Regions from separate parts of the Homo sapiens genome. Here region 1 is linked to region 2. The links come from fine-mapping of genetic effects on gene expression. A gene starts in region 2. The other region holds a variant in brackets. All regions are shown on one strand. Distances are from middle to middle.

Region 1 (5,317 bases), 140 kb before region 2:
ATCCTGCGACTGAGGCCAGCCCCGACACCCAGTCTGGCCCAGCCCAGCCTCCAAGGAGCCCCTCAGCTGCCAAAAGCATCAGCTGCAAAGTCTTCCAACTGCATGGTGGGCTGGCTGGGCGGCCCCACAGACAGGCAGAGCCAAGCACTCCCCTCTCAGGCACTCTGCCGCAGGCTGGACAGACAGATCAGCTGGGCTAGGGCGTATTGTCCCCTGGCAGACAGACAAATCTGCAGCTCCTGAGTGGTTTTTGCCCCAGCCCTGGGACCTCTTGTTTCCTAGCAACATTCTTAATTCAGAGCGGGCACGGTGGCTCATGCCTGTAATCCCAGCACTTTAGGAGGGCAAGACAGGAGGATGGCTTGAGCCCAGGAGTTCAAGACCAGCCTGGGCAACATGGTGAGCCCTCATCTCTACAAATAAATTAGCTGGGTATGGTGGTACACACCTGTGGTCCTAGCTACTCAGGAGGCTGAGGTGGGAGGATCACCTGAGCCCAGGCAGTCTAGACTGCAGTGAACCACGATCACACTGCTGTACTCACTCTAGCCTAGGTGACAGACCAAGACCCTGTCTCAAAAAACCCCCACCAGCCTGGCGCGGTGGCTCACGCCTGTAATCCCAGCACTCTGGGAGGCCGAGGCGGGCAGATCACCTGAGGTCGGGAGTTTGAGACCAGCCTGACCAACATGGAGAAACCCCATCTCTACTAAAAATACAAAATTGGCCGGGCGTGGTGGCGCAAGCCTGTAATCCCAGCTACTCGGGAGGCTGAGGCAGAGTTGCTTGAACCCGGGAGGCGGCGGTCACAGTGAACCAAGATCATGCCATTGCACTCCAGCCTGTGCAACAATAGCAAAACTCCATCTCAAAAAAAAAAAAAAAAGAAGAAGAAAAAAAGAACCCCACCATTCTCAGCTCAGGCCAGAAACCAGGGAGATTCCTGTAGCCCAAGAGTGATTGGCTACCATGCCACACCCATCCTGAACCCTGTGGACTGTGAGAACTTTCAGTTACAGCTCCAGAATCCCTCTCAGAAATACATCCATGCCTGCAGGCCACCACGTCTGCAACTACACTCTTTAGTCCCATTAAAATAGACCTCCGGCTGAGTGTGGTGGCTCACGCCTATAATCCCAGCACTTTGGGAGGCCAGTGTGGATCATTTGAGGCCAGGAGTTCGAGACCAGCCTGGGCAACATGGTGAAATCCCATCTCTACAAAAACTATAAAAACTAGCTGGGCGTGGTGGCGTGCATCTGTAATCCCAGCTTCTTGGGAGGCTGAGGGGGGAGAACCGCTTGGGCCTGGGAGGTGGAGGTTGCAGCGAGCTGCGACAGCACCACTGCACTCCAGCCTGGGTGACAGAGCGAGACTCCATCTCAAAAAAACATAAAAGAGCTGGTCACAGTGGCTCACGCCTATAATTCCAGCACTTTGGGAGGCCGAAGCAGACAGATCACCTGAGGTCAGGAGTTCAAGAACAGCCTGACCAATATGGAGAAACCCCGTCTTTACTAAAAATACAAAATTAGCCAGGTGTGGTGGCACACACCTGTAATCCCAGCTACTCGGGAGGCTGAGGCAAGAGAATTACTTGAACCCAGGAGGCGGAGGTTGTGGTGAGCCGAGATCACGCCATTGTACTCCAGCCTCGGCAACAAGAGCGAAACACTGTCTCAAAAAAAAAAAAAAAAACCCATCAAAGACTCCCTGGTTTAGTAGTGCCTCTCTAAGAGAGCAGGGAAACACCCCTGCCTGCCTGTGTCCCCCCCAAAGCATCACTTCTCCACATTACAAGCACACACAAAGTGGTAAGTCTAAGTAGGAATTTATTTACACGGACACTCAATCATAGATAAGGCGCTGTCTAGGATCCACATGCGTTCCCTGGAGCTACTTGGCATCAGGCTTCTTGTCTCCGGCTTCAAGCTTGAGACTCTCCGGGGGTTGGCGATAGACTGGGAAAGCCTCCCAGGGGCTGTTCAGGTCAAATTTGCGGAACTCTTGGGCCAACTCCACCGGCTCTGCCACCACCCGCTTCACTTCATCATCATAACGTAACTGCAGGAGCAAAAGGCAGGCTTGAGCACTAAGGAAGTCCTTATTATAGCTACACAGGAGCCTACTTTTCACAAGGCTATTGGTGACTTCCCCAGCCCATTCCTCTCGGTTACTGACTCCTGTCCCAGCCTCTGTCAGTAAGTCTCCATCCATACCTGTGTTACCCGTCAGATCACATCCCAACCAGCTAGAGTGTGTGATTCCAAAATGTAGGATACCTCTCATGCCCTGCCAGCACCAGTCAGATTCCCCTGCTCACCACTCCCACATCAGGAGCTCCGAACTGACTGCTCACCCACCCACACACTCTTACAAGGTAATGGTAAGCATTTGCCCAGGATTAGGGAGTAGTCGGTGGCTGAAAAGAGTAAACCTAAACTGGCAGATACACAACCTCAGGCCCGGTGCCCTTGGCATATTCACAGTCCAGATCTAAAGCAGTACATTTGACACAGCTTTTCTTGTTACTTGGGGATCAAATGGATAAGGTAAGGATCATCAGGTGCTAGAGTGAAGAGGCAAACCAGGTGAGGCAGATAGCAGGAGTGGGGTGAAAGGGAGAAGCGAGGGAGATAGCCCTGCCCAGAAGTAGCCCAAGAGGGAAATAGGAGCATGCAAAGCACTAACACAGCAGGAGTGACTGGGAACTAAAAGAGCAGGGCTGGAGCACCACATCTCTGCATTTCTAAACAGTTACTTTGCTATAAAATTCACGAGTGATAATATTACACACTATCTTCCTGCAAATAACCTGCAGCACCACTGAAATTCTTTATTCACGTTACTGGTCCCACCTCAGAGGTAATTTTTGAGGGCTAAGCATCTGGTGTCTTCCCCGTCACTGCCTTCCCAGAGAGTCAGGGCAGGGTAAAATAATCCTCTACTTTCAGGTTTTAGGGACAGACTGTGTCGTCAAGGCTGCCTTGATCATTAAAATGATCATTACAATAATGGATAACACTGGCCAGGTGTGGTGGCTCACACCTGTAATCCCAGCACTTTTGAGAAGCTGAGGCGGGCAGATGACTTGAGCCCAGGAATTCGAGACCAGTTTGGGCAACATGGAGAAACCCCGTCTCTACAAAAAATACAAAAATTTGCTGGGCATGTTGGTGCATGCCTGTAGTCCCAGCTACTCGGAGGGCTGAGAGGTGGGAGGATTACTTGAGCCTGGGCGGTCAAGACTGCAGTGAGCCATGATCGCACCACTGCACTCCATCCTAGGT[G/A]ACAAGAGTGAGACCCTGACACACACACACACACACAGCATCAATTGAGCCTTTACAATACAGCAGGCTTCATACATCATTTATTTATTTAGAGACAGGGTCTCACTCTGTTGCCCAGGCTGGAGAGCAGTGGCGTGATCTCGGCTCACTGCAACCTCCGCCTTCTAGGCTCAAGCGATCCTCCCACCTCAGCCTCTTGAGCAGCCAGGACCACAGGAATGCACCACCATGCCCCGTTAATTTTTCTATTTTTTTGTAGAGAAGAGGTTTCACCATGTTGCCTAGGCTGTTCTCGAACTCCTGGACTCAAGCACTCCTCCTGTCTTGGCTTCCCAAAGTGCTGGGATTACAGGCGTGAGCCTACACATACATTATTTAATGCCAGCCACAAATCTATTAAAGTGCTATTATTATTGCCATTTTAAGATGAGAAAACTGAGTTACAGTCAAACCAAGTAACTTGCCCCAGGTTACAAAAATGAAGCTAGGATCTGAATCCAGGGCCCATGCTCTTAAACCACCACAATCCACAGACCGTATTTCTTGCCATTCCCAGGGATCCCCTGGGTTCTCTGCAAGTCCCTCCCTGAGGCTGCTGTCCCAGTTCCAAGGCTCCTACCTCAACATAGCCAGATAGAGGAAAGTCTTTCCGGAAAGGATGTCCCTCGAAGCCATAATCTGTCAGGATCCTTCTTAGATCAGGGTGGTTAGCAAAGAAGACTCCAAACATGTCCCAGATCTAGGAAAGAGACCACCTCAAACAGCCAATCCATCAAGACTAACAACAGGGGGAAGGGGCTACACTGCATCCCGTAGTCTGAACCAGTTCTGCAACTGTGGCCCAGAGGCAGGTCCACCATATCCGGTAACTCACCTCCCTTTCATACCAGTTGGCTGCCTTGAACACAGAGACAGCAGACTCAATGGGCGTCAGCTCATCTGTGTAGGTCTTCACACGGATCCGTGAGTTGAAGCGCAGAGACAACAGGTTGTAGACAATCTAGGGAGAACAGAAGGATCTGGAGGGCTGAGATGGGAGTCCCTGATTGGGAGAGTTCTGCCCTGTGACCCTGCCTTCTATTCTGAACCTCAAAACCTCAAGATTCTCCTATGCTTACAACTACTTCCAAAGGCCCAGGCCACAGCTGTAGCTTAGCATGTCAGCATGCCTGTGTTTGCTCATGCTATTCACTTTGTCAGGAATATTTCCCTGGTCCATCTCACAAGGCTACCTGGTCTCCTACTCATATTTTAGATTCAGCACAAACATTCTCTCTTTTCAAAGAAGCCTCCCAGACAGGGCCAAGTGCCCCTCCTGCTTTCTTAAAGCATCCCTCTAATATCCTTTGTATTATATGTTACTACAGTAAGCTGTTTAGGTGTCTTTCTCCTTCACTAGAGTGTAGGGGACTCCTGGAGGACAAATACTTCATGTTATTTCTCTCTCCATCCCAGAGTCTGGCAAACAGTAGATAATCAGTAAAATATTAATAGCTAAATGTATTGAAAACACTGTGTGCAAGCAATTTACTTGAACTATCTCATTGGATCCTTATAACCATTCTATAAGATAAGGACAGCTTTATATTTATTTTCCCGGTAAGAAAATGAAAGCTCAGAAAGATTAAACAAGGGCCGGGCATGGTGGCTCATGCCTGTAATCCCAGCACTTTGGGAGGCCAAGGCAGGCAGATCACGAGGTCAGGAAATTGAGACCATCCTGGCCAACATGGTGAAACCCAGTCTTCACTAAAAAAATACAAAAAATTAGCCGGGCGTGGTGGCATGCACCTGTAGTCCCAGCTACTCAAGGGGCTGAGGCAGGGGAATCGCTTGAACCTGGGAGACGGAGGTTGCAGTGAGCCAAGATCATGCCACTGCACTCCAGCCTGGCGACAGAGCAAGATTCCGTCTAAAAAAAAAAAAAATTAAACAAAATATTTGAGTTATCTGAGGTCCCACAGCCATTTAGTGGCAGAACCAAGATCCAACTTCAGATCTACTTGACTCTGAAGTTCCAGTTTAAC
Region 2 (5,370 bases):
AAGATCAAGGAATTGGCAGAGTTGGTTTCATTCTAAGGCCTTGCTCCTGGGCTTGTAGATAGCCATCTTCTCCCTGTGTCTTCACGTGCTCTTCTTCTGTGTGACTGTGTCCTTTTTAAACATTTATTGTGGGCCAGGTGCGGGGGCTCACGCCTGTAATCCCAACACTTTGGGAGGCAGAGGTGGGCAGATCATGAAGTCAGGAGTTCCAGACCAGCCTGACCAACATGGTGAAACCCCGTCTCTACTAAAAATACAAAAATTAGCCAGGTGTGGTGGTGCGCAGCTGTAATCCCAGCTACTCAGGAGGCTGAGGCAGGAGAATCACTTGAACCTGGGAGGTGAAGGTTGCAGTGAGCCAAGATGGCACCACCACACTCCAGCCTGGGTGACAGAGGGAAAGTGTCTCAAAAAAAAAAAAAAGTATTGTGGTCAGGCATGGTGGCTCACGCCTATAACCCCAATACTTCGGGAGGCTCTGAGGCAGGTGGATCAACTGAGGTCAGAAGTTCAAGACCAGCCTGACCAACATGGTGAAACCCCGTCTCTACTAAATACAAAAACTTAGCCAGGCGTGGTGGCATACACCTGTCATCCCAGCTACTTGGGAGGCTGAGGCAGGAGAATTGCTTGAACCCGGGAGGTAGAAGTCTCAGTGAGCTGAGATTGTGCCACTGCACTCCAGCCTATGCAACAAGAGCAAAACTCCGTCTCAAAAATAATTTTTAAAAATAAAAATTTATTGTTTATTTATTTTTTGAGACAAGGTCTTGCTCTGGTGCTCAGGCTGGAGTGCAGTGGCACAATCACGGCTCACTGAAACCTCCACCTCCAGGAGTTCAAGACCAGCCTGGGCAACATGGTGAAACCCATCTCTACAAAAACTAGACAGCTGTGGTCTCAGCTACCCAGGAGACTGAGGTGGGAGGGTCACTTGAGCCTAGGAGGTAGAGGTTGCAGTGAGCTGTGACTGCACCACTGCACTCCAGCCTAGGTGACAGAGTGAGACCCTGTCTCAAAAAAAAGGGGGGGGGGATACCAGTCTTAACTGGATGAGGTACAATGTGACTTCATTTTACCTTAATCACCCTTTAAAGACCCTGTCTCCAAAGACAGTCACCTTATGAGATACTGAGTGTTAGGACTTAAACATATGCGTTTGGTTGCGGGGGGACATGATTCAGTCATATCAAGGTGGGGAATGGAGTGGTGTAACTGCTGATGGGTGTGCGTCTCCTTTTTGGGGTGGTTAAAATGTTCTGGAATTAGTGGCAATTAATGTGCATCTCTGTGAATATACTAAAAACCACTGAATTGCCCAGCCAGAAAGGATAAACTTTTGCCCTGGGGCAGGAAGAAGGCTGGCATGCAGAGAGAGGAGAAAGGGGGGCTGGATGAGCTGGCCTGCTAGCGGGGGCCCCAATACTACATAAGACCTTGCCCTTCTCCACAGTATCTGGTGTTAAATCTCATTATGAGGACCCTTTCAGCCCGGGGTTGGGATTGGAAGTGAGACATTGAAACTTCAAGGGCTGGGTTCTGGCCCGGGTGGGGATTTGCCATGGAGCAAAATAGCCTCTTGCAGCACATGCGGGGTTTCCTGTGCCGGGCACTGTCCTAAGTCCTTCTCAACTCTTTCGTCATTGAGTTCTCATAGCAGTCCAGTGAGCCAGGTACCATTCCTCTCTTCAGTCCACGGTGCCAGGTCACTTGGCTAGGGTCCCACTGAGAGTTCGAAGGAAGCCAGGCTAGAGCTCAGGCCTCTCACCAGCTGGAGGTCTTTCCCAGACTCTCTAAGGTGAGAGTTGGTGAATGGTGTCAGCCTGGGCCTGGATGAGTGACCCACGGTGCTCAGTGAATTTCAGGAACAGAGCCAGGGGATGCTGCGGTCAGGGGTGTCTTGATGGGGAAGAAGCAGGGCTGGGCGCTCACCTGGCTTCCCCGGACCTGCAGGTCCAGCCTCGCTCTCCTTCCCCCGAGCACCTCTAGCCCAAGGCCTGCCCACTTGCTGGAGCTGGCCCCTTGGCAAGGCTGCTGGGAGGGCCCGTGCTGCCAGGGCGGTCAGGGTCAGTGTCAGAGGTGCCTAAGGGACGCCCAAGGGGGTGCCCAGGTGGCAAGGTGCCTGTATGCTCAGGGAAGCCACGTCCCAGCTCGCGGGTGGGTGCAGCAGAGGCCCACGTGACCTTGCTGCTGACATTCCTCAGAGGCCATGTGGCCCCAACTGGCAGCGACAGCTGCAGACGGGCTGAACCAGCTTTGTTCCCAGGGTGGCGCCTGCTCTCCATCCAGGCCCCATTCCGGCTCCCACCCGACGCTGCTTTTGTTCCCACGTTTCGGGGGGCAGCTGGCACTGTGATTCCTGCCCCATGAGTGCCTAGAGGCACGGAGCCACCAGGGATCACCCCACGTGGGACACAGGGCTTGGGGAGGATGGGGCAGGACCAGACCAAGCAGCAGATCGAGAAGGGGCTCCAGCTGTACCAGTCCAACCAGACAGAGAAGGCATTGCAGGTGTGGACAAAGGTGCTGGAGAAGAGCTCGGACCTCATGGGGCGCTTCCGCGTGCTGGGCTGCCTGGTCACAGCCCACTCGGAGATGGGCCGCTACAAGGAGATGCTGAAGGTGGGTGTACCCGGCCTGGGGGCGTTCGAGGGTCAGGCTGGGGCCGGATGTCTCCCAGGCTCCCCAGTCCCCTCTCGGCCTCCTCGGGCTCCCCTGTGTCCCACAGGCTGGCAGCCAGGGCCCGAGGCTCTGAATTTATATCTAAGGCCCTGGGTCTTAGATACTGAGTCTTGGCATCAGATTCAGGCCTGTGGCCTTGAACTGTGGTGCCCGAGTCTCTGAGACTGAGGTTCTCCAGCCTCAGGGTCGAGGGTTTGTGGGTCTCAAGCCCATTGTAGGTTTCAGCCTTCCTGTCTGGTGTTCTGTGTCTGAGCCTGGCGGGGTGTGGGCTCCAGGGTTGCGGCTGGGGGTGGGTGGGTGGTGGAGACTCCAGATCTGAGGCTTGGGATAGAAGGTGAAGGCTGCAAGCCTGAGCTTGGGAGGTGAGGCTGGGGTGTAGGGAAGGTAGCTGAGGCTGGCGGGTAGAAGCTCTGGGTCTGAAAAGAAGCTTTGGGATCTGCTGCTTTGGGTGTGAGGCTGGGGGGTGGGTGTGGGGCCTCCAGGTCTGAGCCTGCAGTGCAGGCTGGGGTCCAAGGCTCAGAGTCCAGGCTGAGCACCACCTGCCCACCGTCGCTGTGTGCAGTTCGCTGTGGTCCAGATCGACACGGCCCGGGAGCTGGAGGATGCCGACTTCCTCCTGGAGAGCTACCTGAACCTGGCACGCAGCAACGAGAAGCTGTGCGAGTTTCACAAGACCATCTCCTACTGCAAGACCTGCCTTGGGCTGCCTGGTACCAGGGCAGGTGCCCAGCTCGGAGGCCAGGTCAGCCTGAGCATGGGCAATGCCTTCCTGGGCCTCAGCGTCTTCCAGAAGGCCCTGGAGAGCTTCGAGAAGGCCCTGCGCTATGCCCACAACAATGATGACGCCATGCTCGAGTGCCGCGTGTGCTGCAGCCTGGGCAGCTTCTATGCCCAGGTCAAGGTGGGCCTGCACCCCAGGGGGACAGCAGTGGAGGGTTTTGGGGCTCCCCTCTCATGAGGCACACACCCTGTGGCACTACCTCATTCAGCCCTCCTTTTAGGGAGGGCTGAGGAGAGTGAGAATCAGAGAGCAAAAAGGCTTATCCAGGAAGGTAACAACTTGGCCAGGAAGCCAGCAAGGGCAGAGCCAGGATTCAAACCTTGATCTGTGTGACTTCCTGGAGGAATAATGGGAGGCTCCTCTGTGAGGACAGGCCAGCGGCCTGCACTGCCATGTTTGCTGTGTGGTCTTGGGCAAGTCACCTATCCTCTCTGAACCTTGGGAGAGATCTGTAAAATGAAGGAGAATAGGACTCACCTTACAGTGGGGTTGTATGGAGTCAGTCATCAAATATTTATTGACCAGCTACTGTATCCCAAGACTGTTGACCCAGGGTGTAGCAGTGAGAAAAACAGCCAAGTCCCCGTCCTCACGAGGGTTGCATTCTAGTTGGAGAAGAAAGACGATCAACACAGTCAGGAAGTCAAGTGGTTAGGAGAAAGCGAAGCGGGGCAAAGGGCTGGCAGCACTGGGCGTGGGGGTGTCATAATTTCAAATATAGTGGTCGGAGGGCCTCGCAGAGGTGATGTTTGATGGCTTGAAGAAGAGAGGGTGTGCCATGCAAAAATCTGGTGAGAGAGCATTCTAGGCAAAAATGGGCGAGCCCCTAAAGCCAAGCTGGACCCTGGGGGAGCATCCTGGAATGTTTCCTGGAATGTTCCAGGAAGGACAGAGGCCAGCATGGCTGCCAGGCGTGTCTCAGGTGTGTGCGGAGGTAGGGAGGTGAGAGGAGGAGGGCCAACTGTGAAGGAACTGATAGGATCAGCCACAGCAGGTTCTGATCCTGGGTATTTTTTGGCGGGGGCAGGGGCGGAGTTTTGCTCTTGTCACCCAGGCTGGAGTGCAGTGGTGCCATCTCGGCTCACTGCAACCTCCGCCTCCTGGGTTCAAGCGATTCTCCTGCCCCAGCCTCCCAAGTAGCTGGGACTACAGGCGTATACCACCACGCCCGGCTAATTTTTGTGTTTTTAGTAGAAATGGGGTTTCACCATGTTGGCCAGGCTGGTCTTGAACTCCTGACCTCAGGGATCCGCCCGTCTTGGCCTCCCAAAGTGCTGGGATTACAGGCGTGAGCCACCGCACCCGGCCAACCCTGGGTATTTTTGTTCCCTTTCCCCTCAGGTATCTGTGCTGTGCTTGGTCCATGGGGGATTTAATGCCTGGCCCCAGTAGATGCTTAATAAATCTTGGAGTTAGTGAGTGGATAAATGCTGATGGATCCAAGGTGGGATGGGAGGAAACGAGTCACCAAGGATGACAGCCAGGACTTTGTTTTTAGGAAGCAGATGTAAGGGGGAGCCATTCAGTGAGATGAGATAGGACTGGGGCAGGACAGGGGTTTTTAAAAACCTTTTTAATTCTGAAGAAAAGTAAGCTAGGCCTGGTGGCTCACACTTGTAATCCCAGCACTTTGAGAAGCTGAGGGGTGAGGATCGCTCAAGACCAGGAGTTCCAGACCAGCGTCTACAAACAGTTTTTTTTTTTTTTTAATTTGGCAAGGCTCATGCCTATAATCTGAGCACTTTGAGAGGCCAAGCAGAAGGATTGCTTGAGCCCAGGAGTTTGAGAGCAGCTTGAGTCGCATAGCAAGACCCCATCTGCACCAAACTTTAAAAATGAACCAGACATGGTGGCTCACACCTATTGTTTCAGCTACTCAGGAGGCTGAGGCGGGAGGATCGCTTGAG

The links. PIP is the estimated chance that this variant, and not a neighbour inherited with it, causes the effect. A credible set is the group of variants that fine-mapping cannot tell apart.
Region 1: its variant is the best candidate, but not a certain one, in a credible set for the expression of RAPSN in whole blood (TOPMed, PIP 0.60).

Annotation. Positions count from the first base shown.
Region 1 is chr11:47,581,061-47,586,377 of GRCh38, reverse strand. It overlaps NDUFS3 (NADH:ubiquinone oxidoreductase core subunit S3), which reads right to left. Exons shown (of 7, transcript NM_004551.3): 5 at 4,165-4,290; 6 at 3,910-4,029; 7 at 1,816-2,064. The coding sequence ends at 1,897. Among named protein-coding and RNA genes, the nearest start is that of FAM180B, 3.0 kb to the left of the region's middle. The variant G/A (reference allele first, on the strand shown) is at 3,291.
Region 2 is chr11:47,446,025-47,451,394 of GRCh38, reverse strand. RAPSN (receptor associated protein of the synapse) reads left to right here and starts at 2,259. Exons shown (of 8, transcript NM_005055.5): 1 at 2,259-2,622; 2 at 3,245-3,583. The coding sequence starts at 2,431. It overlaps LOC124902673 (a long non-coding RNA gene), which reads right to left. Exons shown (of 2, transcript XR_007062669.1): 2 at 3,958-4,068.